Linked DNA regions of Homo sapiens. The protein of the gene in region 3 interacts with the protein of the main gene of each other region in a biochemical or structural test. Each region holds a gene or a part of one and is shown on either strand. Other genes may lie near its edges. The genes, in order: CSK, GNA13, RGS16 and GNAQ.

Region 1 (7,770 bases), on a different chromosome or scaffold from region 3:
AGATGGGTTTAGGGTGTGTGAGGGTGGGAGCAAGGCTCTGTACCCCCCAGCTCACCTCCACCAGCTGCATGAGGTTCTCAAAGTACACCTCCTCGTCGATGCTGAGCTTGCTGGCATGGTACATGATGCGGTAGTGCTCCACCTTGCCGTCGCAGCTCACGCACAGCGTGTAGTCTCCGGGGTAGTTGGTGCTCTCCCGCACCAGGAACAGGCCTGTCTCCGGCGGGTACAGAAGCCGCTCAGCCTGCTCCCGTGTGATCTTGCCGTGGAACCAACTGGGGAGCAGCAGGGCTGGAGGTCATGGTGGCCCAAAGGTACTGACCCTGGCTCCCCTTTCTGAAGGGGTTCCCTCTGCTTGGCACCCGTGGCTCGCACTCGCTCAGTCAGGCATTTGAGGCCCTCTTCTTCTGCTCCCTGTCCCTTCTTTGCCACCCTCCTGCCTCTGCCCCCAGCCCTGCTCTGTGAGGTCCCGCACCCGCACCCTGCACCTCCTCCTGAGGCCCTCCCCAACACCCAAGCCCCTCACTCTGGCCTCCCTGCTTGCTCCTGATGCTCCTTCAGGAGGACCAAGGCCCCTTCCCTCCCCAACCCCTCCTCGTGGTACTCACGGCATGAGGCTGAGTTTGGTACCCGCCTTCACGCCCTCCCGCTTCTGGACGTAGTTGGCTGGGATGATGCCCTCACGGCCCACCTTGTTTTTGGCTTTGTACCAGTTGGGGTCCTGGGGAGAGGGCAGCCCAGACATGCTCTCAGGCCCACCTCCCCCTGCAGAGGGAAGGCCCAGCAGTGGGATGGTGGGGTGGGCGTCACCTGATTACCTTGGTGACGGCCACAATGGTGAGCACGTCTCCTTTGCAGAAGGGCAGGTCCTGCTCGGCAGTGCCGTGGAAGTTGTACTTGGCAATACATTCTGTACCGGATGGCCAGGCGGCCTGCAAGGCAGGTGACACGTGGGCGGGTGCAGCCTGGGCCCCCTCCAGCCACCTGCTGGCGCACCCTCGTGGTCACAGCCTCTGAGCTGGCCTCTGTGAGCCTGGGTGAGGTGCTCTGCCCGGAGAACGAGCCCTGGGTCCCTTCCTGTTGAGACTCCCCCACTTCCCCAGGCCTGTACCTGACTGAGTGCTGGGAAAAAGGGGAGTGGGTTGATCTAAGCTGCATCCTCTCTCCTCTGCTAAGCACCCCGCTGGGGCTGGTGGGAATGCTTGCATGTCCCAGACCCTCACCCCTGTGGTACCTGTATTGCTGACATCTTCTCAGGAGCTCTGGCGTCCCCGAGTCACAGTAAAGCCAACCTGTCACTTGGTACCATTAGAGCTGTGGGGAAGAGCATGAAGACTGAGGAGGGGTGTGAAGAAATGCCCCCCAACTGCTGAGATCTGGCTCCTCACTGGGCATGAACAGGTGCCAAGAGTGTCCTGCGCTGGGATTTGACACATGGGCCATTCTCTCCAGTCCTGGCAGGCTGACGGTACTGGGTAGAGGAGCATGAGGGCTGAGGACCCCCAGGGGCAGAGGGAGCCACCAACCCTAAGGCCACAGGGGGCCTTCCAGGACTGATAGAAAGGAGCAAAGGGGGCTAGTGGGACAATGGACACCTGACCGTCAGCCCCAGGCCTGGTTCCAGCTACTGTTCTGTGGGGAAAGGGGCCCCGGAGCAGCTCTGAGAAGGGGCTATGTGATCTGAGAAAGTCCCTTATGCTCTGTGGGTCCTTGGGTCCTTCACCTGCAAAATCCCGCCCAGGTAGCATCTCTAAACATATACCAACCCCACTTCTAGGTACACACCGAGAGGACACAGGACATGTGTCTGCCTAGACAGGCACAGGAGGGCTACAAGTGGCATGCTTTGTAATAAACCTCAAACTGGGAGCTGCCCAGATGCCGATCCAGAGGAAAATGGATAAACAGTGGCATATTCACAAAAGGGACTACGTACAGCAGTAAACACCAACCATTAAATAAACTCCAACACAAACTCCAACCATTAAATAACACTGATGAATTTCTTTTCTTTTCTTTTTTTGAGATGGAGTCTGGCTCTGTCACCCAGGCTGGAGTGCAGTAGCACAATCTCGGCTCATTGCAACCTCCACCTCCTGAGTAGCTGGGATTACAGGCATGCACCACCACAACCAGCTAATTTTTGTATTTTCAGTAGAGATGGGGTTTCACCATGTTGGCCAGGCTGGTCTCGAACTCCTGACCTCAGGTGATCCACCCACCTCGGCCTCCCAAAATGCTGGGATTACAGGTGCCAGTCACCGTGCCTGGCCAATCCCGATAAATTTCAAAACATAATGATGGCTAGGCACAGTGGCTCACACCTGTAATCTCAGCACTTTGGGAAGCTGAGGCAGACAGATGGCTTAAACCCAGGAGGAGTTCAAGACCAGTCTCGGCAACATGGCGAAACCCGGTCTCTACTAAAGATACAAAAATTAGCCGGGGGTGGTACTGCGTGCTTGTACTCCCAGCTACTCAGGAGGCTGAGGTGGGAGGATCGCTTGAGCCTGGGGAGGTCAAGGCTACAGTGAGCCAAGGTCACACCACTGCACTCCAGCCTGGGCGACAGAGTGAGACCCTGCCTCTAAATGAATGAATAAATAAATAAATAAATAAAATGTTAACCAAGAAGCCAGACACAGGAAAGTACATATTATGTAATTCCATTTGAATAAAGTTCAAAATCTGGCCAAACTAATCCATGCTGTCAGGATAGCTGCTCTTGGGACAGGGAGACTGGAAGGAATGCAAGGGGACCTCTGGGGTTGGTTTTCAGACTGTCTGAGCCCAATCATGAAGTGGGTCCACTCTGTGACAATTCACTGAGCTGTACCATTGCGATCGGCACACTTTTTGGTGTATAGTGCACACTTGAACAACTCGGGTCTGAACTGCGCAGGTCCAGTTACACATGGATTTTTTCTTTTTCTTTTCTTTTTTTTTTTTTTTTGAGAAAGGGTCTCACTCTGTTGCCCAGGCAGGAGTGCAGTGACGTGATCATAGCTCACAGCAGCCTCAAACCCCTGGGTTCAGCCAATCCTCCTGCCTCAGCCTCCTAAGTAGCGATTACCACAGGCATGCGCCACCACACGTGGCTGGATGTTTTTCAGTAAGTTACACTGAGTGTGCCTGCCTTTTCTGCCTTCCTTTCCACCTCCTCCGCCTCCACCTCTGCCACCTCTGTGACGGCAAGACCAACTCTTCCTCTTCCTCCTCAGCCTACTCAATGTGAAGGATGAAGACCTTCATAATGATCCCCTTCGACTTAAAGAATAGTAGATATATTTCCTCTTCCTTATGATTTTCTTTCTTTTTTTTTTTGAGACAGCAAGACTCTGTCGCCCAGGCTGGAACGCAGTGGTGGGGTGACTCACGGCTTACTGCAACTACCTCCGCCTCCCAGGTTCAAGTGATTCTCATGCCTTGACCACCTGAGTAGCTGGGATCATAGGCGTGCGCCAACACAGCAGACCAATTTTTGTATTTTTAGTAGATACAGGGTTTCACCATATTGGCCATGCTGGTCTTGAACTCCTGGCCTCAAGTGATCCGCCTGCCCCAGCCTCCCAATGTGCTGAGATTACAGGTGTGAGCCACTGCACCCGGCCATATGATTTTCTTATTTTATTTTCACTAGCTTACTTTATTGTAAGAATACAGTATATAATATATATAACAAACAAAATGAGTGTCAATCAACTTTATCTACAAGGCTTTCTGACAACAATAGGCTATTAGTAGTTAAGTTTTTGAGGAGTCAAAAGTTAATATATGATTTTTTGACTGCAGGGAGGAGGTTGATGCCCTCAACCCCTGTGTTGTTCAAGGGTCAACCGTATATTTACTTCAATAAAGTTGACTCCCCAAAAAAGCTACCCTAGCCAACCCCATTCCCTGAGAGCAGCAACCCACCCGTCTGCACACACATACTTTGTAATCCCAGCCCAGAGCCCCCTTGGACCTGTCTCAGGAAGCAGAGGGGCTGGAACTACTGTTTCCTTTCTACGGGTGAGGAAACTGAGGGTGAGAAAGGGCCAGTGGCATCTTCGTGGTCACAGTGTGTTAGAAGAGAAACTCCTCCATGAGCCTCTTTGCTGGGCTCTTTGATACAGTGGATGAGGTCTGGGGGCTAGGCTGACAGTCACAAATATTGCTACCTACCCCAGTGGAAGGAGACATTTTATTTTATTATTATTGTTATTATTGCGACGGAGTCTTGCTCTGTTGCCCAGGCTGGAGTGCAGTGGCGCGGGAGAAGACATTTTAGTGCAAAGTGCTGGGGGTGTGAAGTAGGCACGGACTGCAGAGCTCAGACAGGCTCCCTGGAGGAGGGAGCTCTGGGGCTGAGCCCTGAAGATTGCAGGGCTTACACAGGCAGAGGGCGGGCCAGGGAAGGCACCCCAGGTTGATGCAGCAGTCTGAGCAAAGGTGTCAGGCAGGGGACTGGCATAGTATGAGAAACTGGCCCAGGTGGAAGCCGATGGTGAGGGAAGCGGGAAGGCAGACCCTGCCCATCTGGGGCTCTAGGACCCCACACACTTCCAGAGTCCACCTTGAGCACCGCTGCTCAGGGGACACTGTAGGGGATGGTTTCAAGTGGGCCTGGCATAAACTCTGCCAGGCAGCAGGGGGACTTCCACTGCCAATGTGAGGAACCAGGGTTTGACTCCAAGGGCGATGGGGCCTCAGCAGGGGGGCATGTGATCATGGAGAGCAGAAGGAGCTGGGGAGGAGACGGCCAGGGAGAACCAACACTTCCAGGCCGCACACCTGGCTCTATAGTCAGGCCTGGGCTTAATACCTGGCTCTGTTGACTGTGCGACTTGGGGTGAGTGACTCAACCCTTCTAAGTCTTGCTTACCCTGAAGGGGAGGACAGGTATCTCCTGCAAGCTGGCTGAGGAGGGGCTGGAATGAAACCCTGAACTTGGAAATGTCTGGTGCGCCCCTGCCCCATCCCCTGGATGAAAGAGCTTCCGTTCCTCCCAGAATACAGGGCCCTTTCTATCCCCAGAGGCCAGGCCATCAATCCTGCTGTTTAGGCAGGGACACTGAGGCCCAAGGAGGATGAGCCTGAAACCTGCCTCCATCCACATGACTCAGTCACCACTAAGTACAGGAACCATCCCTTGCCCCTGCCTCCTGTGGACTGTAAGCTGTGAGGGTGGGGGTGGCGGGGACCCCTTGCCCCTGCCTCCTGTGGACTGTAAGCTGTGGGGGTGGGGGTGGCGGGGACCCCTTACCCCTGCCTCCTGTGGACTGTAAGCTGTGGGGGTGGGGGTGGCGGGGACCCCTTGCCCCTGCCTCCTGTGGACTGTAAGCTGTGAGGGTGGGGGTGGCGGGGACCCCTTGCCCCTGCCTCCTGTGGACTGTAAGCTGTGAGGGTGGGGGTGGTGAGGACCCCTTGCCCCTGCCTCCTGTGGACTGTAAGCTGTGGGGGTGGGGGTGGCGGGGAGGGAAGGAGGATTGTGAGCTCTTCTAACCCTCTTACCCCCATTTCACAGAAGCGGAAACTGAGGCTCAACTGGTTGAACAATTTGCCTGAAGTCACATAGCTAGTTAGGGGTGACAGAGCTTGAATTAGGGTCCCACTAGGGCTGGCTGGGCCCCCAACCTTTAGGTCCTTCTGAATAGGGGCCCTGCTAGCATTCCACATCCCCATGCCTCCCCCTTCCTCCCCAAACTCCCTGCCACCACAGGGGGGCGCGGAGGCTGCTGCGCTGTTAGTCACCCTTCCAGCTGTCAGTTTGCAAACACTCCCTTCCTGGCCTACAGCTACTGCCACCGCCGCCTCCCCACTGCCTTGATTATAATAATAAAAATAATAACAGGCCCTGTTTTCTGAGCACTTATTCTGTGCCAGGCCCTGTCCTTGGCACGTTATGGCTCATCACATCCTCTAACAACTCTGAGACAGAGAAGCTATTATTATCCCCATTTTGCAGATGAGAACCCCAAGTGAGGCCCACAGGGGCAAGGCGGGGGTCCCTAGGGCCACACCTTGAGTGAGCATTCTGTCCCCCTCAGGTGTCAAACTCCTGAGCTGCTGAGCCAGCCCTCCCCATAGCCCCGTGCCTCCCTGCCGGACAGGCCCCAGGAGTTGCCATGGGGACCACACTAGCCTAGGGGCAAGGGAGAGGAGGGAGGAGGGAGGAGGCAGAAGCAGCTATGAGGGGCACAGGGGCGGTGCTCAGGGAAGGGTAAGCCTAGGAGCGGTCGGGGTGGGCTGCCTCAAGGAGCTGGGCTCTGAAGGCCTCAGAGGGTCTGGAAACAGGGAAGAGGGCTAAACTCATCACCTTTACTCTGCTGGCTGTGACTCTAGAACCCAGCTTCCCCATCTGTGCAATGGACTGGTGATACTCCTTGGCTCTGGGGGCTGCTGTGAGGACTGGAGTTGAGCTCTCAGCACCAGAACAGTGCCTGCCTTGCCACAGACATCTTGCAAGTGGGAGCTGCTAACTCTCTTGGACGGCTCCTCCCTGGTGGGGTCATGAGACCCCTGAATGAATGAATAAATGAACAAACAAAAGGGGGAATCCAGCCTGGCTACATCACACTGAGGTCCCATAACCAATGGGACTATAGTTAACCCCAAAGGGACTATAGTTAACCCCAAAGCGATAGCAGCTGTCACCCCACCCCCACAGAGCTAGGGGACAAGGGGCTTGGGATGTGGCAGGACCAGTGCTTCACGCTGACTTCCTGCCCCAAACCCGGCTCCCAGTAGCCCTTGTGCTGGGGTCCCGGGAACAGGCTGGCATTGTGCCCAAGCACTGACGTCAGTGGCCGCAGACAAGATGGCTCAGTGGCTTCCCAGCTAGTGCCTAGGCCGGGGTCCCCTCCTTAAAACATCTCCAGAAGGTGAGACCCTCCCACTGCAGGTCAGAGGCTGACAGCCAGAGTGGCTGGGAGGAGCTACTGCAAACTTAGGCCTCTACAACCCAGCGGGGGTCAGGCACAGAGAGGGGGTCCTTCCTGGGGTTATTTAAACTTAAGAGTCGGGCTACTCTATGGAACAGTGCAGGAACATCGTCCTGGGTGTCAGATGCTCTGAGTCCTGTACCCAGCTCTGCCATCAACTTGCTGTGTGACCTTGGGAAAGTCACTTGACCTTTCTGGGACTTGTTGGCTTCTGGTACCTTAGCCAGACCTGTTTCCCATCTGCTGTTGCCAGGACACCTGTGCCCTGTCTCCCTCCCCGCCTTGCCATTCCCTTCACACTCTCTCCTCCTCCTTTACCGAGGGACTTCCACTCAACCTTGGGGGTGCAGCTGAGCAACTGCTTCTGGAGTACCCATGCCTTAAAAAAACACAGCAGGACAGTCCCTGCAGTGCTGTCTGTAGTAGCAGGAGATGATGGGGAGACAGCCTTTATGTCCATCAGTTGGGGGCTGGGTGGATAAATTACAAGATGTCCCTGAAAGGGGACAGCATAGCTCTAGCTGTGATGGGGCCAGGGGAGATCTCTAGATGCCGATACTGAACACTCCCCATGATAGAGTATGGAAAATGGCAAAACACCAGCTCAAGTCATTGAAGAAAAAGTTGCCAGGGGAGCAGAACAGACACAGCTTCCAAGTCCCATCCCACAGGCTAATTGGAAACAGGAAGGAGCACCTGCACTACAGGGAGACGTGCGGACAACCCCGGAACCAAGTGATCCAGTGAAGCATCACCAGCAAGGTGACGCATGGACACTAAGTGCCTCCTGGAGGAGGACTCTGCATTGCCCGGGGGGGCGTTCCTGCCAGAGCTGTTCCACCTGACT
Region 2 (7,800 bases), on a different chromosome or scaffold from region 3:
ATTTCACATAAGTGGAACCTTATAATATGGGGCCTTTTGTTTCACTTTGCCTAGTATTTTCAAAGTTCATTCATGTTGCAGCATGTGTCAGCACCTCATTCCTTTTTATGGCTGAATAATTGCAATGTATAGATATGCGACATTTGGTTTATCCATTCGTTCATCGATGGACATTTGGACACCTTTTGGCTATTCCTTTTTTGTTGTTGTGGGTTTTTTTAACTTTTATTTTAGGTTTAGGAGTACATATGCAGGTTTGTTATACAGGTAAACTGCTCATCTCGAGTTTGGTGTACAGATTATTTAGTCACTCAGGTAATAAGTATAGTATGCGATATGTTTTTTGTTTTGTTTCGTTTTGTTTTGGTTTTTGAGACGGAGTTTCGCTCTTGCTGCCCAGGCTAGAGTGCAATGGCGTGATCTCGGCTCACTGCAACCTCCGCCTCCCAGGTTCAAACAATTCTCCTGTCTCAGCCTCCTGAGGAGCTGGGATTACAGGCGCGTGCCACCATGCCCGCCTAATTTTTGGTATTTTTAGTAGAGATGGGGTTTCATCATATTGGCCAGGCTGGTCTCAAACTCCTGACCTCAGGTGATCCGCCCGCCTCGGCCTCCGAAAAGTGCTGGGATTACAGGTGTGAACCACTGCACCCGACCAGGTATTTTTTTTTTAATCCTCTCCCTCCTCCTGCCTTCCACCCTCAAGTAGGTCCCAGTGTCTGTTGTTCCCCTCTTTGTGTCTTGTTTTTTAGAGATAGGGTCTCACTCTGTCACACAGACTTAGAGTTCAGTGGCATGATCATAGCTCACTGTAGCCTTGAGCTCCTGCATTTAAGCAATCTTCCTGCCTCAGCCTCCTGAGTAGCTAGAACTACAGCTATGTGCCACCACATCTGGCTATTTTTTTTTTTTTTTTTTTGAGACAGGGTCTGGCTCTGTTCCCCAGGCTGAAGTGCAGTGGTGCAATTTTGGCTCACTGCAGCCTCCGCTTCCTGGACTCAAGCGATTTTCCCACCTCAGCCTTCTGAGTAGCTAGGACCACAGGTGCACACCGCCTTCCCCTACTTTTTATATATTTTTTTGTAGACAGGGTTTCACCATGTTGCCCAGGCTGCTCTTAAACTCCTGGCTTAAGTGTTTGGATTACAGGCGTGAACCACTGCAGCCGGCTAATCTCTTGGCTACCATAAATGGTGCTGCCATGAACGTGGGTATACAAGTTTTTGTTTGAACACTGTTTTCAATTCTTTTTAGTATTTTGGGGGGTATACCCAGGATAAAATTACTGGGTCATATGGCAATTCTATGTTCACCTCTTTGAGAAACCACCAAGTCTCTAACTCATTTTTATGTTTACAATTTACAAGGTGTCTTGATCACCAGTTAGAAGAAGCTGGACAGCTGCAGCCAAACCCCTAGGTTGGACCCAAAGAGGTCTCTTTTTCTTTCTTTCATTCATTCATTCTTTTTCTTTTTTTTTTTTTTTGAGACAGAGAGTCTCACTCTGTCACCCATGCTGGAGTGCAGTGGCCTGATCTCGGCTCACTGCAACCTCCGCCTCCCACGTTCAAGCAATTCTCCTGCCTCAGCCTCCCGAGTAGCTGGGACTACAAGCGCCCACCACCACTCCCCACTAATTTTTGTATTTTTAGTAGAGATGAAGTTTCGCCATGTTGGCCAGGCTGGTCTCGAACTCCTGGGCTCAAGTCATCTGCCTGCATCAGCCTCCCAAAGTGCTGGGATTACAGGCATGAGCTACTGTGCCCGGCCTTCTTTTTCTTTCTTTCTTCCTTCCTCCTTCCTCCTTCTTCTTCTTCTTCCTTCATTTGACTTTCAGGTCAAAGAGGTCTCTTTTTAAAAACTACACTGACTAGAACAGCCAGACTTGATGTGAGCCAAGTTTGTTCCAAGGCAAGCTTACACGCAGGGCTTTAAACAGCTTTCTCTGCTGCTCTGCATGTCACGACATGAACTGGCTGGGCAGGAATACCTTCCTGCCTCCTAGGCATTCTTGGTTTTCCATTATATTACACACACTTCTGAAAAAAGATGTTAACTACCTAACTTACAAGTTTCTCTCCTCTTTGTTGGAGTTCAGATTAGCACCTGGGGTCAATGCAGAAACAGTGCTCGGGGACAGGTTCTATGCCCCAATCCTGGGAGAGGCGAGTCCTTGCATGGTTAGAGAACAGGGCCTCCCAAACACTAGATGAGATGATGGAAAAATTCTCCATCCAGGGCAGGCTTTTACCATATATTTTGCCTGACAGCACTGCTCAGTGATTCTGACTCTTATCAATCCACAGATATTGGAGGTGAGCCTACTCTACTTGTATATTGTAGGTTGTCCACCCTCTGGGCTTGCCAGAGCCACAGGAGATAATCCTACTACAGGCATTGTTTACTGCAGCCAATCTACTGAGTCGAGGCTTCTCGGTCATTAACCCAACCCCAGGGAGTAACTGATTAGTACCGATTTTAAAATTTAAACCTGTTCGGGAGTTTCTTGGAATGCTGACCTCTTACCTCCGCTCCCTTATACATACGAAGTTTCTGAGCCACAGGAGCCCAAAGCTACGTTGCATTGCCCAAAACAGGGACAGACCAAAGTGGCTTTTTCCACTTGAAACTAAATACTAAGAATGAAGAGGTCGGCTCTCGGGGGTCCCGGTTAAGCAGTTTCTCTGCCAACCCACAGCTGTCACTTGTGGCTTGTCTCCTGGCCTCCTTTCAGGTGTCCTGGCCTGAATCTGCTGTTAGGACAGAAAAAAAGTCCCTGGACGGGTCATATCCTCTGTAATCTGGCAGGAAAGCTAAAATTTGCGTGCTCCCATTCCTCGTTGTGTTTGTGTATCTGCTTCCTTGTTGGGAAGAGCCTACATCACAGTGTCCGGTGTAGGGGATTTTCACCATGACCTCACCCTCCTGCTGCCACTCGCTAATTCCGGCGCGGCCAAGCGTCCCTGAAGTCACATCACAGCCCAGGTGGAATGCACGAGTGAGCCATTAAATGCCCCTGGTAGCACGTCTCAAGTGAACATCAACTCCAGTTCTTTCCCCTCACAGAGAGCCCTGGTAGGGGTCTGAAAATGCCAGAAAGAGCTGGAAGTGGGGGTGGACGACGTCTGGTTACCGTTCTGGGATTCGGAGACTAGAAGGTCAAGGGAGTCACTTTAAGAAAACACACCAGGCCTGGGCCTGGTGGCTCTGTCTGGAATCCCCGCACTGTGGGAGGCCGAGGCTAGAGGATCGCTTGAGCTCAGGAGTTCGAGACCAGCCTGGGCAACATAGGGGGGAGCCCCTGTATCTAAAAATAAATACAAAAAATTTAGCCGGGTATGATGGCACACGCCTGTACTCCCAGCTACTCGGGAGGCTGAGGCGGAAGGATGGCTTGAACCTGGGAGGCGGAGGTTGCAGTGAGTCGAGATCGAGCCAATGCACTCCAGCCTGGGCGACAGGGTGAGACTCCGTCTCAAAAGAGAAAAAATAAAATGAAATAAAGAAAATGCACCAAAGGCCTGCCAGGCTCACGCCGGCTGTTCTGTTCGAATAACTTTCGAGTCCGTGGCCTCGAAATGGGTCGGGTGGGCGGTGACAGCGGGCAGCGGGCGCGCAACGCGGGAGAAAGGGAGGCTAAGTGGGAGCCCAAAGAACCGCGTCCGGGACCTGGTCTCCGGCCTCCCGGCCTTGGGGAAGGAGCCCTTCTGCCCACAAGTGGGCTCAGGCCATGAAAGGGAAACAGAAAGTCGGGCTCCCCAGCCTGGCCCACGTGACCGCGGTTCCTCAGCCCTCCCCGCGCGCCCGGCCGCGGCTGCGGGCGCGGGCACCCGAGCGACACATCGAGCTCGTGACTCGCCGCCCAGGGCGGGAGGCGGAGAAGCGGCCGCGGCGTGCGAGCGCGCCTCCGGGAGGCAGCGGGAGCGCGCACGCTCCGGGGCCACCGCCCCTCCGGGGCCGGGCCCGCCCTCCTTCCCTCCCTCCCTCCCCCGCTGTCCTGGCCCGCCCTGCCCGGCCCGCCCTGCGAGTCAGTTCGCTGGTTCCCTCCCTCCCTGGGCGCGCTCGGGCCGCCGCCGCGCTCCCCGCCCTCGAGCCTCGGTGCCGGAGCCGCCCGCCGCCGGAGGAGGAGGTGGAGGGAGCCGGAGGGGCCCGCCGAGGCGGCGGCGGCGGCGGCAAGATGGCGGACTTCCTGCCGTCGCGGTCCGTGCTGTCCGTGTGCTTCCCCGGCTGCCTGCTGACGAGTGGCGAGGCCGAGCAGCAACGCAAGTCCAAGGAGATCGACAAATGCCTGTCTCGGGAAAAGACCTATGTGAAGCGGCTGGTGAAGATCCTGCTGCTGGGCGCGGGCGAGAGCGGCAAGTCCACCTTCCTGAAGCAGATGCGGATCATCCACGGGCAGGACTTCGACCAGCGCGCGCGCGAGGAGTTCCGCCCCACCATCTACAGCAACGTGATCAAAGGTGCCGGGCCGGGAATGGGGGCCGGGGGTTAAGGGCAGGGGGGCTGGGGCGGCGGCGGGTGCGGGGCGGGGCACCGCCCTGGTCCGCTGTGTCGCTGGCGAAGGAACGGGCCCGGCGGGCGGGCTGGCGGGAAGGGGGCGCGCCCCGGCAACTGGCCCTGCCCGCCCGGGGTGCCCTCGCGCCCCAGGGCGAGAGGATGCTCGGGGTCGCCCTGCTCTCCCGCTTGTCTCCCCGGTGGGCGTCACGGCCATTCCCCCACCCCCCACCGCGTCCTGGTCTCTCCCCCTGCGAGAGGGAAGTGGGGCGAGCTGGGTGCTGCCTCGGGGTGTGGGCAGACCTCTCCTGTCCTCCCCGCTGCGGATGAGGCAGGAACACCAATAGCAGCCCTAGCCGCTTCACCCCCATCCCCTGCTCGGGCGATGTGGGCCGAACCTCGCTACCCTGGCTGGGTGACCCGAGTCACATGGGGTCGCATGCGCTCCCAACTCCCTGCTTCCTTGGCCGTCTCCTAAGCAAGCGAGTTCTGGAACCGTCGCAATAAGGGAACTTTTTGCCCGAGACTTCTTGTCAAGGGCGTAGGGTGACAGCCTCCTTTTGGGCGAGAATATGAAACTTGAGGAGTGTCAGGTTGACTGTACTGGAATCAGGAGAGAGTGGACCCATACAGTTAGCATGAAAATGTAGCATCTGTGCTTTTTCGCCCCAGTGTCACGGTCAGGTAGGATGTTTGCGTGTGATTTCTGTGCAACACGTTCCACTCTCCTTTTCGCTAAGTAACTGGGGGCTGGCAGGAAGGGAGTACCACTGCTTCTATTTAGATGAAATGTAGTAGTAAGAAGACTGGCCTAAAAGTCATGTGGATCCTGTACAGATGGAGACAATGAATGAGTGTTGAGTTAGATAATTGGCTCGGCTCTTTATTGACAGTAGTTTTAAAATTAAACTTTGTTCTTAAGTGAAAAATAAACAAGTTGTTTATTTCTGGGCATTCAAAGAAATCGAAAAGATGGTTTTTATTTTGTCATTTGAAAGATAATTAACACTCGTTTCTGCGTGTCAAGTATGTTCTATAGAAAAGGCATTTTGGCAAAATTTAGGTGCAGCGCCTGGTAACTCAGGTGCATCTGGATTTTATTTTATCTGGGGAGCAGTTTAGGAGTTTGCTACAGATTGCAGGTCTTTTTAAGTGGGATTTTTGTTCAGGAAGTACATAAGGGACTTCTGCATGTCACCCCCCCGCCCCCTCCCCGCCAACCGCCTCCCGAGCTTCCAGCGTTTGGGTAAAGGAAAACTGCCTGAAGAGCCAGGCATTATGGAGTAATGAATTAGAGAGAATCACTAGACCACAGCCAGCTCTAGCCCTAGTACCTCTGCAGTTAAACTATAAAGAACAGTTGTATTTATCCTGCTGTAATGTTTAGCTCAAAACTAATTAAGGTCTCTTTCAAGGCTGCAGACTCTGCCTTGACAGTCCTTAATTGAAGGTACCTTTGTAACCTGATGCAGCTGAACTTAAGGAATTATGTTAATGAATAGCATCAACATGTTAACTGACTGTGAGCCTGGTAAACACCTCGTTCTTAATGTACACTGAGTTGTAAGTGTGATCTACGTTGAGCATTGATTATGAGATGATGTAAGTCATCAGGAATCTAGTTTTTTCAAGTTGACATGAAATTTGACAGTAGAACAGTTTCTCAGGCTGGGCGTGGTGGCTCACTCCTGCAATCCCAGCACTTTGGGAGGCCAAAGTGGGAGGATGGCTTGAGCCCAGGAGTTCCAGACCAGCTGGGCTACATAGCCAGACCTCGTCTCTATTAAAAAACAAAAACAAAAAAACCCCACCCGTTTTTCAGTTATTCAGATGACTTCCTAATAGCCAAGTGACTGTTCAGATTGATCAAACTTAATAAAAGTAATAGATCAGTGATAGGAAAAATGAGTTTCAACTAACCTCTGTGAGTTGGAGTCCGACTTTGTATTATTTTGCAGTTGATCTTCCTCCCTTTTAGGGAAATTGAAGGCCATCCTGTAACTTAAACTGGATTGAAACTTGGGCTGGAAGAAGTTTTTAAATTTTGAATGTGTTGCTAGAAGACTCAATGTTGGGTTAGGGTGCCGAAGCAACAAACAGAACATGGAGCTATAGTAGTTGGTTCTTAGTGTTTCATAAATGAACATCTTTTAGGCTCATAAAACCTTGGTTGTGTCTGTTTTCTTCTGAGCTTGGACATTGTTGGTCTGTGCAGCATAACTTCTTTTTCTTTCTTGAGTTAGATTGTTTTTTGACTACCTTCTATCCTAGAAGTTATTTTATAAATTGGAACATGTTAAAAATCCTTCAGAGAGAGGAATTGTGCTAATAGTATTTGCTTTTCAAGGCTCTAATTTTAAGACAGTGAGCAACTGTTATTTTTTTTAACCTCTGAGAAGTTACATTTGTTTTCGATGTTGGTCTTCATTTTTGAAGAAGGTTTGTCTAGGTTAATTCAGAAGTATAAGGAAATAATACTGGAATAAAAACTTATGATAATATGTAATGACTCCTCTCCATACATTTTTTTTCTTCTTTTTAAACAAAGGTATGAGGGTGCTGGTTGATGCTCGAGAGAAGCTTCATATTCCCTGGGGAGACAACTCAAACCAACAACATGGAGATAAGATGATGTCGTTTGATACCCGGGCCCCCATGGCAGCCCAAGGAATGGTGGAAACAAGGGTTTTCTTACAATATCTTCCTGCTATAAGAGCATTATGGGCAGACAGCGGCATACAGAATGCCTATGACCGGCGTCGAGAATTTCAACTGGTAAGAGATTTGCTCTTTTAAAACGTGTGGTTTTATTTTAATGATGTTTAGTAATACAGGTTGCACATCCCTAATGCGAAAATTCGAAATGTTCCCAAATCTAAAAGTATTTGAGATGGAGGAACAGACTGAAAGGCTAAGGCACAGACCTAATGTGTCCTAGTCTCTAATGACTACGTGTAAAAATAGTGTATAAAATTACCTTTAGGCTACATATCTTAAGGTATATATGAAACATAAATGAATTTCTAGTTTAGACTTGAGTCCCATTCCCAGCATATCTCATATGTATGCAGATATTTCAAAAATCTGAAAAAATTCAAAATCCAAAACACTTCTGGTCCCAGGCATTCGGATAAGGGACACTCAACCTGTATCTGATTTTAGCACACTTTTTTCACTGACTTCCATAATTTAATGTATCTATCCAAAATTATAGCCTCAGAAATTTGTTTTTTTGTTTTTGGGGGGTTTGTTTTGAGACGGAGTCTCTGTTGCCCAGGCTGGAGTGCAGTGGTGTGATCTTGGCCC
Region 3 (7,758 bases):
GAAGAAGAGCCAAAGGGCTTGCTGGGCCCACGAGGCTCCCCAAGCCCACACCTGGCCATCCTCCTCATGCCTGACCTCATCTCCTGCTCTTGCCCTGCTCTACACAGGTCCATTTGCTCATCCGTGACTGTGACAGGCAGGCTCTGGCCATTGCATTTGCTGCTTCCTGTGTTGGAATGTTCTTCCCTCCCTGAATTCTTTCTTATCTCTGTTCATATGTCCTCACTTCCCTTTACAGAATGGAAAACCTTACGTCTTCCCAGGCCCTACCTCTGGTACTCCCTGTCTCTCATTTCCTGCTGTATTTTTATGAGTGCATAGCTCATCACCTGGCATATATTTGTCTAGTTGGTTATTGGCATCTTCCCCCATTCAAATTATAAGTTTCATTAGGTAAGGGACTTTGTGTGGCTCACTGTGACATACACAGTGACTGTAACAGTGTCTTGAATATAATTGGGGCTCAATACACCTTTACAGAATTATGTGGAATCAATCAGCGGTCAGAAAACAAAAATAAGGTACAAAAGTAAGGCATTACTCTTATCTTTCCACCAGGTGGCGCTGTGTTCTTTAGCAAATGCAGCTGCCATGCGTTTAGCGGCCAGGAGAGAAGGTAGACAAAAAAATCACAGACCACAGACCAGCAGGCCTCAGGCAGGTCAGCCTGGGGACTGAGCCAGGTTACATAAGGTCCCTGTGCTGACCTTGTCTCCCCAGTTGCTAAGTGTTTTGAGCCTCTAAAAACGGATGGGTTTATAAAGGTGGGTATGGACAGAAGCCGAAAAACCTGCCAACACATCCTGCCCCATCATGAGTCTTAGGGTTAAGCACCCAGGAGTGGCACTGGGCCTGGCTTTCCTAGTCTCTGGTCACAGAAGCCCAGTCACCCCTGTGCCAAGTAAGGCCCTTCTACCTCTACACCTAGCCCTTCCTCCCCTCTAGCCCTGATTCTCAGAGGGGAAGGAGCAGGCAGGGTCGTGAGGATTCACTGGGCATATGGGGGCTCTAACCTCTTTAGGGGCCTCACTGCAAATGAACTCCTCAAAGATCTGGTGTGCCCTGGAGGCCAGCTTGGTAGCTGATCGGATCTTCTTGAACTCCTCACAGGCCAGCCAGAACTCCAGGTTCTCCTCACTGAACTCTGTCTTCAGGAAAGCGTGGAAGGCAGCCACTCCATCTGGGGTTGCGGGAAAGAAGAGGAAATAGGTCAGCTGGAGGGACAGCAGGGAATACAAGAAGAAAGGAAAGCAATTGCAATTAATGGCTCTATTTTTAGAACATAATTTTCTTGAACAATGACCTGCCTTTATATGTTGAATAGAGGCTGGCACACTAGGGGATCATTATTATTATTATTACTACTACTATTATTCTGCCCAGGCTCTCAGCAGTCCTGGGGCTGGCTCCAAAGCACATGAGTACACATGTGCCACCCAGAGACAGACACAAAAGGCTCCTACTCACTTTTACTGCTCAGCAGCAGGTCGAACGACTCTCTCCACCCCAGCACATCTTCTGAGAAGTTTCTACTAAAAGACAAAAAGAAAAAAAAAGAGTAAGAAAAAAAATCAACAAACCAAAGCATAGTACAAATTCTAGCCAGAACTCTGATGGAAAACTGCATAAAATTCACAGAAAGGCTTGCTTGGTGATTGCTGAAGCTGACACCTCAAACTCTTAGTTGGACTTAGGGTAAGCAGTAGTGCTTTCTAGAGCACAATTCAGCAACCAGAAATCAAAGCCAGGGACTCTTTAGTCCTCAGTCAATATCTCTAAGCCTGTCTCGTCTCTGTCCAAAAATTATTTCAATTCCCCTGACTCTCAAAGATTTGTTTTGTACACCTTCCCAAGGAAATAAGGTCCTCATAAATAGAGATTACATCTACACATAACTCCAGAGTTTGGTACAGTTGATAGCCAATATGAAAGAGTTTCTAGGCAAGGTGCATACTAGAAAACTTCAAGTGGTCTTGGATTCTGTCCTAGCCCTGGATGCACGTGCAATGAATCCCGAGGTGGGAGAGTCTGGGAACTAGGCATTCATGCCCTGTGTGCCCTCATCCGTGGATGGACTTGGAGCCCTGGAGCCACCTACCCACTCACCCATGAGCCAAGTAGTCATAACAGACCAGCAACAAGTCCCACTAAAATCTCTAGGGAGGTGTTGCCAAGGTCCACTTAGCGTGTCCTGGCTTCTCCCTGTATTTCCCTCCTCATGACTCCCTTCCCACTCCCTTCCCTCTCGGAGCCCTGAGCTGGTCAGCAACACTTACTTCTCTTTGCTGTGTTTACTGCCCCACTCGAACTTGCCAGTACTCCCAGTATCGCAGCCCAGCTCTGATTTGTGAAGAAAGATCCCCAGACGTGTCTTGAACTCTTTGGCTCTGAAAAACAAATCAGGAACATGAAAGCATTCTCTCATTTGCTCAGCCAGTGTGGAGAGGTTTATGGGTCCCAGAAGAGCTCTGGGTGGTGCCACCCAAACTTTAGCCTCAAGAGTTCCTGGAAACTCTTGGCTGTCCCCAGGCCAAGAGTGCTTCTCTTATCAGCATCATCAACCCCAAAGCAACAAAAGCAATGTTTGAGCTATGCTGTGGTAGGTCTTACACTTTCTGGGTAATACACACGCTGCATATATGGGCTTTTCCCTAAAGTCACACTGATCTCTCTTCGTGCCTGTTGATTCAGAAAAGAACTCAGCATTCTTTTCAGAAGTATTTCTGAACTGTGTGGGAAACTGATTCCTGCCTTCATCTTTACTTTTTCCTTCCCAGCCAGTAAGGATTGGAAGCTGTTGAGTAGCTCTCTGGAATATGGACACACCCTCAACAGTGGGAGCCCCCACCCCCACACACCCCACCAAAAAAAAAAAAATCTCCCTGTCTTCCAGGGGCAGAGGAGGCAATGCCCCTAGCTCTGGTCTGAGGAATGAAAAACAAATGCTTAAGAAATGGGCAGGCTCAGTGCTGCCTGGAAATGTCAACGTGGCCTTCCCGCAGCCGGGTCTTCAGCAGGTCACCTGAGCACGACTGCAGTTTGTCAGAGGATGGGGATGGCAGCAAGCCGCGGGCCCTTGCTTCCCTTCCCCTTGCTTTCTCCCTGCTCCTGGAATCTGAGCACGTGGCATCAAGTGCGCTTCTACCTCTCTACTCAAGCCTCTAGCGCCCCATCCCCGCGCCCACCCAGGTCCCCAGGCCTGCCGCTCCACTCCCTAAGAGTTGGTGGGACTTCCCCCAAGCAGTTGGACAACCTCCCCTTACCTCTCCAGGCAGGTGGTGGGGAAGGCGGCCAGGGTGCGGCACATGGCTGCGGGCGCAGGGCAGCACGTAGTAGGCAGGATGGTGGCAGGCTCCAGGAGGCTCCGCGTGCGCCAGGAAGCAAAGGCGCGGTAGCAGGTGCTAGTCAACTGCGGTTGGGTTTAGCAGCCTGCAAGCGCCCAGACTGAGCGGCCGCTGCTTTAAATCCCCTCGGAGGAGCGGGGCGGGGCTGGGCACTGCTGACCAATCGGAGGGTGGGGCTGGGCGCTGAGAAGGCGGAGGCGGGGCCCGCAGCCAGACTGGGCCGGGTGCAACTTTCGCGGCAGCTGGAGCACGCGGAGCTGCACCCTCCGCCCAGAGGACGCCGCGTGTGGAAGGAAAAGCGGCAAGAGAATTGGCACGGGGATGAGACGTGCACACCCAGTTTCCTAGGGAAAAGTACCTGCCGACCTCTAGTAACAGCAGGAAAGTCACGCAGCGGTGTCGTGTTGAGAGAGTTTGCACGGGGGTGGTGGGTCTGGGAGGCACACAGGGCTTTCTTTGATCGCAGGCAAGTCTGAGCCTGCTGGGTCCTGAGGACAGGCGCACAGGGTGCAAACCTGGGCAAAACAGCATCTGATTATACTGATAAGTACCCTTTACGAGGCTCTTACCATGATGGACACGGGGCTAAGTAAGCTCTTCATCATCATCTCCATTTTATAGATGAAGAAATCGAGAATCAGAAAGCTAAATAAACTTGTCCAAGATCACAGTTGGAGATGACAGAAAAGTGGAATAGGGATGAGTAGTTTATTGAACACCTACTATGTGCTAGGCACATAAGTAAGACTTGCTCAAAGTCTTAGTTATTAAATAACTTGCTCAAAGATGTGCAGCTAGTAAGTGTTGGCTCCAAAATTCAAATGTGAATTTGCCATTCTTTTTCCATTGCACACACACACACACACACACACACACACACCACACACACACACAAAGGTTAGTACCCGGTCACGGCTATACCTGTGGACGATCCTGGGTTTAAGCAGTTAATACCTTATTGTCTCCATCTCTGACATAAAGGTAATAAATGCCCTTCCTCTCACCTCATCTTCCCATAAAGGCATTGGGATTGCTATTAAGAGGCTGTATGTGAGGTTAAAAGTACAGGGTCTAGAGTTAGATTTTCAGGTTTCAAGTCATGGCTCTGCCAGGTGACCTGCTGAAGACCCAGCTGCAGGAAGGCCACGTTCACTGTTAACTGGCTACTGATGGGAGACGAGGCAAACTGCTTAACCTTTCTATGCCTCCATTTCCTTGTCTCTACGAAGAGAACAACTTATTTCATAAGGTGGTTGTGAGAACTAAATAAATTAATTCTTAGTTTGAGTTCCTAGGAACTAGACTCGGGTAGACACTTGCATGCAGGAGGTTTACTGGGGAGAGTTATCAGAATTAAGAGGGAGTAAAGAAAGCAGGTCTGGGCAGAGGGAGGAGTTGAAGGCCATGCCATTTCAACAGAGACCCCAGCTGGTTCCAAGGAATGCCCGGAAGCTCAGCTGGCCCTTTGGAACTGTCCACTGAAGCAAGAGGACAAGGCCCTGGTAACCCCATAAAGACCATTCATTGCATACAGCTGCCCAAGAAGACAGCCTAATCTTAAGGCAGTGCCCTTTGTCAAGAGCAATTCCTGGAGAGAGACTAACACCCTGGGAAATGATGATCACAGTCCCCAAGACGGGATCTGGGTGGCACCGCACAGCATCCGTGACAACATATAAGGTGCTTATATGACAGTGCTCAACATGTAGTCAGCAGTCAATAAATGTTATAATAGCTTTCAGTTTTACTTAATAGGGATACTGGGATTGCTAGCAATAAGGAAAATTAGTGAGTCTTTTGTGCCTCTTGGAATACAGTATAGGCAGTGTATACTGAGGCACTCTTAGTTAAGTACACCTGAGGCACTCTTAGTTAAGTGTACTGGAACAGGAAATAGCTGGAAATTGGATCCTATCTCCCAATTCCTGAGCTAGTACTTTCTCCTGCTCTGATAAAGAAAGCAAAATAAACGGTGCCAGGAGCAGTGGCTCACGCCTGTAATCCCAGAACTTTGGGAGGCTGAGGCGGGCAGATCACCTGAGGTCAGGAGTTCGAGACCAGCCTGGCCAACATGGCGAAACCCAGTCGCTACTAAAAATACAAAAACATACCCAGGCATGGTGGTGGGTGCCTGTAATCCCAGCTACTTGGGAGGCTGAGGCAGGAGAATCTCTTGAACCCAGGAGGTAGAGGTTGCAGTAAGCCGAGATCGCGCCATTGCAAAAAAAACAAAGGCATTGATGCACAGTGCACAGACCAGCAAATCTGAGAGCACAAAGCTCCCTACTCTAGATGAACGGCCCTCTCCAAGTTCAACCTGCCTCTTTGTTGCCATGGTTACCTCTTCAGTTTCCAGGCAGAAACTTTTTGAAGTTCACAATTTATCCCAAATTATCTTCCCAGCAGGTCGGTTCATATCTGCAGTTTCGGTAATGCAGGATGACTCGACAGTTGCTGTAAATCCAGCAAGTTGAGCTCACTTATGAATTGCACTGGCTTGGACAAAACCTGACCTCATTTTTGCCCAGCACTCCCAGAGCAGATGTGATCTCTTTAATGGATGGCAGCATGGGGGCACGGCTCTGCACCCTGGGTCATCTGGGGTCAGCAGTCTGGGCAAAGCCGTAGTCAAGATTAAATGTCCCACAGCATCCCAGCCATATTGCCTTTCATCTCCTTCAGCTCCCAGCCCCCAGCACTACCCTTTCCATGGAGGCAGAAGTCTAGATGGGGATCTTTGTCTACTGATAATGGTAAGCAGAAATGAGAACTCTTCCTCCATTTTTCTGATTTAGCTCAGATGATCCTCACAGTGGTTTAGGTCCTCCAAATTCAATCATCAATCTACAAATACATATTTCTTATGAATTTACTATATTCCCAAGTTGGTGGGAAAACAATAGCTTTTAAGGCTCTTCCCTGAATTCAAGGACCTTATAATCTAGCTAAGGAAATAGAACTGCATGGTGGGGAGCAGGGAAAGTGAAAGGAAACTATTGTTTGTCACAGAAACAGATGTCAAGGGAAGAGGCTGATTAGAGACGGTTGACAGTATTGAAAAAGAAGTGATGGAGCCATGGTAGCCAGTGAAAAGCAGAAGAAGTAGGAGGAGGCATGAAAGTGAAAGAAACAGGAAAAGCTCTTATCATTTGCAGGTACAGCAAAGGTGCAGAAAGACTAAGGAATTTATTAAATGCTGCAGAAGCACTTAGGGTTGTGGGACACAATTGGATGCCACTTTTAGATTTAAGAGCGTATCCTGAAGCAGCTGAATGAGGAGGCAGTGATCATCTCCAGCAGAAGTGAAATAGGCAATCACTGGGGACATTTCCCCACTGGTTCATGACAAAAACTTTGGGCACCCTCTCCTCCTGGGTAGGAGAAGTTGACCAAATTCAGCCTGGTTGTAGGAAATGACTTTTACTATGATTAATGATTACTGTTTAGGGTATTGCATGCAGCTTGCTTTGCTGCTATATTAGTCCTCTCTGGTTTCTTCTTTTCCCTCCCTCCCCACTTCTCCCAAACCTAGACTTGGAGGATGACGTCTAGACTCCTCTGTAAGGCATCTAAGGCTCTAACCACTTGGTCTCATATCCTTTATACACCCTAAATTCCAGCCAAACTCAGCAATTGGCACATTATCCTGGGCATCATGCTGCCTTATACCCACAAACCCTTGAGCATAAAATTCTCTTGGCCTGAAGGTCCTTCCCCTTCCTGTACTACTCAGTTAAAAAAATATTTTTCAATAAACTGATTTTACTTATATATTGAGATACAATTACATATAATAAAATGCACAAATCTTAAGAGTACAATTCAATGAGTTTTGACAAATGTATACACCCATGTAACCAATATGTAATCAAGCTATGGCTTCCATCACTCCTCATGCCTGCTCCAGCAAATTTCTCCCCTAAACAGAGGTGACCACTAGCCTAAGTCCTAGAACCATACATTGGTATTGACTTTTCTTGACTTTTCTACCTATTTTTGAGACCTAGCTCAACTGCCTTCTATTCTATCATACCATCCCTAATTCCTCCTCCCTCCCCGCATCTGCAAGCAGAGTTGGCCAGGCCTCCTTTGAGCCATCCCTGTTGCCCTGTACTGATAGAATCAATGTACAGTCTGTTTCCTCTGTGCACTCCTGGAGGGCAGGGACTATTGCCTTGGTCATCTTTTTTTATCTTCAGCCCCTATCACCATGCTCAGTTCTGCATATGTTCCATAAATGTTGGCTGGGTAGATGGCTTCTGTTTCAACACAAATAATAAAAGCTAACATTTATCGAACACTTACTATGTGCCAGGCTCTGTTCTGTGTGCTTTGACTTGAAGTATCTCTTTCAATGCTCACAATTACACTCATAAGATCAGTAATATATTTTCCCCATTTTACATTTGAGTAA
Region 4 (7,770 bases), on a different chromosome or scaffold from region 3:
TGGCATTTCAAAAGAAAGGACTCCTGTGTGTCTTTGATCCTGCCTTCTGCATATTTCTCTGAGCAATCAAGCTATGGCTGAAGGTAAACATCTAAAAGAAATGACACTTAACTTTTAGATGGGCATCCACTGTCCCAGTCCAAAGTGAGACAAGACAGTATATTCTATTAAAAAAGAAACTATGTGTGTATCCAAAGCAACACATTTAAAACCGTAAGTATTAATACATATAATCCTTCAGCAAAAACTACAAACTTAAATTAAGCTGATGATGGCTTAAATCGAACGATGTGTCCTGACTGTATCATTTGAGAGAAAAACTTGACCAAGAATGGAACTAGGATAAAGGCCATTGTAACCTGGGAAAAACATCAGGAGGGAGGTATGAATTAGCGGGGGAAGAAAAAAGGGAAATCAGCTTTGTTTTGCTCCATAGAAAAGAAAAAGAGAGAGAGACAGAAAGAAACAAGTCTTATCTTTGTGAGTGCATGACTGAGAATTTAAAATACACTGAGTCACAAGGTTTTGCCTAAAAAAAAGATAGAGAGGAAATGTGCTGGGACTGTACTTCAGCATCCTCTGTTTTTCCTCTGAATAGTTTAAATAAAATCATAATATTTACTACAAACTCTGTGGACACGCTCACACAGAGTCCAGGACGGCAATAAATTAGTATTATGCAAATTGTTTTCCACAGAAATACAGTCCCTCTTGTGTATCTTCAATAGCCCACCAGGGAAGGGCAGGGCGGGTGTCTAGGAGGCACAATTAGACCAGATTGTACTCCTTCAGGTTCAACTGGAGGATGGTGTCCTTGACGGCAGCAAAGACAAAGCGGATATTCTCGGTGTCTGTGGCGCACGTGAAGTGGGAGTAGATAATTTTGTCACTGTCTGGGTTCAGGTCCACGAACATCTTCAGAATGAATTCTCGGGCTGCCTGGGCATCTCTCTGGGGTCCTTTCGGCCAAGAGACAAGAGGGACACTTTGTTACCTAATCTGCTAATGTATTCAATCATCATTGGTTCAATAAATACTGTGTCATTGCTCATGAAGCCTACATCTGCACTGCAGATTTGATCTGTTATAATCATTTTCCCTAACACTGCTATGTCTGACCATCCATCCACCCACCCAGGCACCCACCCATTCACAAAATGTGGATAGGTGAAAGCAGACAGATGACTTGAAAGCCAAGGCTAAGTTTATTTCTTAGCTTGGCCTTCACTCTGATTCCCTGAGTGATTGGGAGCCACTGTAGGCTCTTCATCAGGGGAGTGATAGCTTACTTCTGTTCAACTGAGTTAAGTATGCTTGTTTCAGCTATATAATAAGTGTGCACAAAGATACAGCTGCCTCGGGCTCTCCTGTCAATCTGTCCTCCAAACGACCCAATATTATGGATCATTTTACATCTTCCAGACTGACATCTCTCTTAGAACACCTGTTTGTAAGGTCAGGTCTATCTACAATGGGCCTCTGTAACAGTCTCACTTCCATAGATTTCTGGTATTTCTGAGCACACTACATTTGTGTAGCATTCAGTTCATGTGTGATGATAAAACAATTGGTTTATATTTTCTTTTCTTTTTTTTTTTTTGAGATGGAGTCTCATTCTGTTGCCCAGGTAAGAGTGCAGTGATAAGATCTCAGCTCACTGCAACCTCTGCCTCCCAGGTTCAAGCGATTCTCTTGCCTCAGCCTCCTGAGCAGCTGGGATTACTGGTGCCTGCCATCATGCTTGGCTAATTTTTATATTTTTAGTAGAGACAAGGTTTTGCCATGTTGGCCAGGCTGTTCTCAAACTCCTAATCTCAGGTGATCCACCCGCCTTGGCCTCCCAAAGTGCTGGGATTACAGGTGTGAGCCACTGTGCCCAACCTATATTTTCTTACATTGATTTAAGAAGGAGTCTCTTATGTACCAAGAATTCTCCTAGATGCTTTGAAAAAGGATTGTGACATATCTAGCAAGATAAACTAAAAATGTAATTTTGCAATGGATTCTTAGATATGACACCACAGCACAGGTCATATTTTTCACAAAAGAAAAAATAAATTGGACTTCATCAAAATTAAAAACTTTATGTATCTAAGGACTTTTTTTTTTTTTTTTTTTTTGAGACAGGGTCTTGCTCTGCTACCCAGGCTACAGTGTAGTGGAATGATCATGGCTCACTGCAGCCTCAACCTTCTGGGTTCAAGTGATCCTCTTGCCTCAGCCTCCTGAATAGCTGAAACTATAGGTGCCACCAAGCCTGGCTAATTTTTAAACTTTTTGTAAAGATGGGGGTATCACTATGTTGTCTTGAACTTCTGGCCTCAAGCAGTCCTCCCACTTCAGCCTCCCAAAGTGCTGGGATTATAAGCATGAGCTACCACACCTGGCCAAGGCCATTATTAAGAAAGTGAAAAGCCAATCTATAGAATGGGAGAAAATATTTACAAATCATGTCATCTGATAGGCGTTTAGTGTCCAGAATATATAAAGAGCTCCTACAATTCAATAACAAAAAACCCAATTAAAAAATAGGCAAAAGACTTGAACAGACATTTTTCTAAAGAAGATATACAAATGGTCAATAAGCACAGGAAAAGATGCTCAATAATGGTAATCATTTAGAAAAATGCATATCAAAACCACAGTGACAGACCTCTCCACATCTACTAGCATGGCTATAAAATTAACAAGGGTTTGGGAAAATATGGAGAGATTTGTACTCTTGTGCACTGTTGGGAATGTACAAAGGTGCAGCTGCTGTGAAAACAGTTTGGTGGTTCCTCAAAAAGCTAAACATAGAATAACCATATGACCGACCCTGCTAGTCTACTCCAATGTATATATCTAAAGGAATTGAGAGCAGGGGCTCTGATAGACACTTGATCTTAGTCAAAAGGGCAAGAAGCAATGTACATCAATTTTAATAGCAGCATTGTTAACAACAGCTAAAAGGCGAAAACAATCCAAGTGTCCATCAACAGATACATGGAGAAACAAAACCAAACCAAACAGAATATCAGAATATCAGAAACAAAAAGAATATTATTCAGCCATAAAAAAGAGTAAAGCTCTGACAGATGCTGTAATATGCATGAACTGTGAGAACATTATAATAAATAAACCCAACATAAAATAACAAATATTGTATGCTTGCACACATATGACGTACTTAGAATTGGTAAACTCATAAAGACAGAAAGTAGATTAGAGGTTTCCAAGGGTTAGGGGGAGGAAGGAAATGGGGTGTTGCTGCTTAATTGGGGTGGTGAAAATATTTTGAAAATACTGGTGATGGCTGCACAGTATTGTGAGTGTAATTAATGCCTTTTATGAATTGTGCACTTAAAAATGTTAAAATGGCAAATTTTATAATTAAAAAAAGTACTATATCAAAACCCACTGAATTGTACACTTTAAATAAGTGAATTACATGGTATATAAATAATCTCAATAAAGCTGTTTTAAAAGTGTATTTAATAGGTACCGATAGATATATTAACTTAAAACTTACTGTAAATAACATCAAAACACCATCACCTTTCAAGTATTGGATACGTATCATATATCTGTCTTTGTGTTGCTTTATATATGCATTTCCTCCTATTTTTTCAAGTTAGTTCTATACCAAGCAATAAGAAACTTTTTTTTTTCCTTGAGACAGAGTTTCACTGTGTTGCCCAGGCTGGAGTGCAGTGCCATGATCTTGGCTCACTGCAACCTCCACCTCCTGGGTTCAAGCGAAATCTCCTGCCTCAGCCTCGTGGGTAGCTGGGACTACAGGCGTGCACCACCATGCCCAGCTAATTTTTGTATTTTTAGAAGAGAAGAGACAGGGTTTTGCCATGTTGACCAGGCTGGTCTTCAACTCCTGGCCTCAAGGGATCCGCCCACCTTGGCCTCCCAAAGTGCTGAGATTACAGGCGTGAGCCACCACACCCAGCAGGTTTTTTTCTATCATCAATATTCTTGTTACCTACTAGTAGGGATAAAGAGATCTTGCAGAACTCTATTGAGGGCTTGACCACCATTTCTAACAAAATGCACCCTGAGCTTCAGACAGCTGACTTGAATTATTCTCAAACCAACCTTTTTATAAATTGGAGATTACTCCAATAAACTTATATCTGATAATGCCAGAAGATGGGAGGAAAGAATTATAAAAACAAATAGACTATCCTCATTTGTACAATTTAAAAAAGTAATGTTGAATTTTTGATGTAGGTGCCCAGAATTCAATTTTTTTAATGACTAAGAGGGCTGGCATCATATTTAATAGATAAAAAGTACAATTAAAAACAATATGTAAAGTATATATACAAGCAAATATATATATAATTAATGTTCCATCTTTTTCAATGTACTATTAACTCCAGAGAAGTAATAAAAACTATTCAAAACCAGAAAGTAACAGATTACCAGAGCTGGAGAAGTCTCTCATTTCATAAAAAGAACATTATATTTCTGGCTTCTGAATGAACTTCTGTATGATTTTGTACTTACTCTATTTGGGAAGGAAGGGACTATACCTTTTTTTTTTCTTTTTTATTTACCCTACAGAATATAAGAACTAGATCCAAGTTCACTGAAGTGTACTTGAAAAGTGTTATGTTTTTAAGCATAAATTGTTATCTGAATAAACATACACTACAAAGAACTCATTACAGCCATCACAGCAGGAGCAGAATTCCACAGTCTCTATGAACAATCTTGCAATTCAAGTCCATGTGGAAAGGGTAATTTCCTTTCTTGAAGAGAAATACAGAAATGGCATTCATTATGATTAAGACCTTGTAAGTATAGAAATGTGGAAGTGTGAAATTTATAATACTATAAACATGCTTATTACAAAAACATCACTGCAGAGTGGGCCTCAATTTTTTCAGTGTTTGCTCATCTTACAAGGGCTTGGAGTTTCACGTAATGACTGCTGCGCTGGCTTTGTAATAACAAAATCAATGTCTTTTTTCTTTTTCTGTGGCCAAGTTTCCTCTGTGCATTATATGTATACTGGGGTAAGGTAACAGTAAAAAAAAAAAAAAAAAAAAAAAAAAGTCTTCAGATTTCAGAATATTCACAATGGGCACATGCTGGAAGGAAAATGCTTGTAGTGGTGGGGAATCTGGGGAAATTATTGGAGAAAGGAGGTACGTGAAGAGATTAGGAAGATGGTGCAGAGATCAAAAAACAGCACTGCAAGCACTGATCACAAACTAAGTCTTTTATTGCGGAAAAATCAGCAACTGTGAAGTGTGGCTAGGTATGCTGCATCTGAGAAGTTTGAATGAACCCCTCAGAAGGGTTCACCTCCGTGGGCACCATGCTCTATCTGTTCTGCATCCTCCCTTATGCAAGCACATCATGAAAACGTGCCAGCCCACAAGATGGGGTGTTGTGTATGGTGTGGCAATTTCTCACACGCTGATTCTTACCAAGTTCCAAGAAAAATTAAGAAGAACCTCGAGTGTGTGTGTGTGTGTGGCAGGCAAGCGTGTTTAGATCTAAGCCAGATGTTTCATGCCTACTGTATTCAGGTAGATGTGTTTGAAGCTTGAGGTGGGAAAGCAAGTTAACTACCCACACAGTCACTTCCTTCCATAGTTTTCTGAGCAACACTGAGAAGTGCAGTCTCAGGCATTGATGATTTGTTTCCGGGCTAGTGCAAATTAAAAGGAGTGAAAGAGAAAACACTGTTTAGACTGAGAAAGTGTTTTTCAAAGAACAGCAAAGCACAAAGGAAAATGTACTTGAAGAGAGGATATGAACACAATGCTAACAAAAGGTACCATTTCTAACATCTGGTGACATCCACAAATGTTTATATTTTCAATTCACCAACCTTCAGGATCTTACATGTATTTGAGAAGGGAACTTCAATTCATTTAACATGTAACATTTCCCTTTCATGAGCCAGGACTGTACCACATTCCATGTGGGATGAAAAGATGACTAAACCTCCATCCCTGATGTGTTTGTATCATCATAGAAAGCTATGAAGCTAAATTTAATCTTGGTTTTTAAAGTAATTACTTTTCTGAGGAAGCTTTTAGTAAGTACAAAAACACTGTGGAATGATATCCATCCTGGATATCATATGTTGACAATGTAATTTTAAAAATAGTCTCTTCTCTTGTTGTTATATCACCTCTATGGTAGATACTTTTGGGTTTCTGCTATGTGATATATGTATGATTCCATTCAATTCTTTCTTGCCCAGGGATAAACTGAGTAGCTAAATAAATTTGTCTGAGGCAACACAGACAGTGAGTGGCAAAGTGGAACTTTTCAGAGCTTGTGCTCTTAACTATCTAGACCACGGCTTGGCAAACTTTCTCTGTAAAGGGCCACAGAGTAATTGAGGCTTTGCAAACAATTCTATCTCTGTCACAATTATCCAATTCTGCTGTTATGGTGTGAAAGCAGCCATAGACAGTGTATAATGAATGGGTGTGGCTATGTCTCAATAAAACTTTATTCATAAAACCAGGTGGTGGGCCATAAGGGAGAGATGTGATTATCTTGCCAAATAAATAAACTTTTTTTTTTTTTTTTTTGAGACAGGGTCTCCCATCACCCAGGCAGGAGTATAGTGGCAGGATCATGGCTCATTGCAGTCTTGACCTCTTGCCAACTCCTGCCTCATTTTTTATAGATAGAGGTCTCGTTACATTGCCCAGGCTGGGCTTGAACTCCTGTGCTCAAGTGATCCTCTCACCTCAGTCTCCCAAAGTGCTGGGATTACAGGTGTGAATCACCACACCTGGCCACATAGACTCTTATAGGGCAGCAGTCGTGACTCTCACTTGTTTTACATAGTGGCTACATGTGGATGCATTTTGTTACCAATCACCAAGTGTTCAAGTGTTTCTCAGAATGGGTTGGGTGTCTAGTTGTCCAGGATTTCACAGTCTAGTTGGGGAGGGTAAGATCCTTTTCTAAGAACAAAGCAAATAATGCAGAGCCATAGGAGTAGTGAAGTGGATGCTATAGATTCTAAGTGCTGCACAAAGAGCTTAACACTGGGTTACTATTAGTAATGGTGGTGGGACTTCATTGGGCTATGAAGTTTCAAAAAAGGAAGTATTTCCTGAGTATTCATAAGTGTCCTACGTGTCAGGCATCATGCTAAACGTACACATATGTTATATACTACAGTGCACAAAACAATCCTATGAGTTTGGTCGTAAGGCCCAGAAAAATCAAGTGACTTGATGGTAGTTCTACAAATAGGAAGTGTCAGAACTGGGATCTCAACCTTGATAGACTGATTTCAGTGGTGGGCTCTTAACTTCAAAATTGTGTTCCTCCCCAGAGAGAGGAGAGGCAGAGGTGGACGGTAACCAAATGAAAGGGAGACACAGAGGGGACTATAAGAGTTAATACACAATTGGTCAAAACTACTGGATTGTTCCTTTTTCTGATCTGCTATTTCAAAGCAGATGAGTTTCTTTTCTTTTTTTTTTAGACAGAGTCTTGCTCTGTTGCCAGGCTGGAGTGCAGTGGCGCGATCTTGGCTCACTGCAACCTCCGCCTCCCGGGTTCAAGCAATTCTCCTGCCTCAGCCTCCCGAGAAGCTGGGACTACAGGTGCCTGCCACCACGCCCAGCTAATTTTTATATTTTTAGTAGAAACGGGGTTTCACCATGTTGACCAGGATGGTCTCGATCGCTTGACCTCGTGATCCGCCTGCCTCGGCCTCCCAAAGTGCTGGGATTACAGGCGCTCGCCACTGTGCCCAGCCATGAGTTTCTTTTTCTATGACTTTTAGCATTG

Evidence for each region.
Region 1: of the proteins of RGS16 (region 3) and CSK, one has a biochemical effect on the other in vitro, tested with the Homo sapiens proteins (one study listed by BioGRID).
Region 2: the proteins of RGS16 (region 3) and GNA13 form a complex in vitro, tested with the Homo sapiens proteins (one study listed by BioGRID).
Region 4: the proteins of RGS16 (region 3) and GNAQ form a complex in vitro, tested with the Homo sapiens proteins (one study listed by BioGRID).

The regions. Positions count from the first base shown.
Region 1 is NC_000015.10:74,791,777-74,799,546, reverse strand, and holds part of CSK (tyrosine-protein kinase CSK), read right to left. Parts: intron 6,502-7,770; exon of another isoform or gene 6,299-6,501; intron 1,336-6,298; exon of another isoform or gene 1,315-1,335; 5' UTR 1,250-1,314; coding exon 1,235-1,249; intron 933-1,234; coding exon 819-932; intron 722-818; coding exon 609-721; intron 276-608; coding exon 56-275; intron 1-55. UniProt on the Homo sapiens protein: Non-receptor tyrosine-protein kinase that plays an important role in the regulation of cell growth, differentiation, migration and immune response.
Region 2 is NC_000017.11:65,052,971-65,060,770, reverse strand, and holds the start of GNA13 (guanine nucleotide-binding protein subunit alpha-13), read left to right. Parts: upstream 1-4,030; 5' UTR 4,031-4,177; coding exon 4,178-4,460; intron 4,461-4,996; exon of another isoform or gene 4,997-5,178; intron 5,179-7,042; coding exon 7,043-7,269; intron 7,270-7,800. UniProt on the Homo sapiens protein: Guanine nucleotide-binding proteins (G proteins) are involved as modulators or transducers in various transmembrane signaling systems.
Region 3 is NC_000001.11:182,600,953-182,608,710, forward strand, and holds the start of RGS16 (regulator of G-protein signaling 16), read right to left. Parts: upstream 3,438-7,758; 5' UTR 3,308-3,437; coding exon 3,264-3,307; intron 2,388-3,263; coding exon 2,277-2,387; intron 1,533-2,276; coding exon 1,468-1,532; intron 1,181-1,467; coding exon 1,014-1,180; intron 1-1,013. UniProt on the Homo sapiens protein: Regulates G protein-coupled receptor signaling cascades. Inhibits signal transduction by increasing the GTPase activity of G protein alpha subunits, thereby driving them into their inactive GDP-bound form.
Region 4 is NC_000009.12:77,720,555-77,728,324, forward strand, and holds part of GNAQ (guanine nucleotide-binding protein G(q) subunit alpha), read right to left. Parts: intron 960-7,770; coding exon 769-959; 3' UTR 1-768.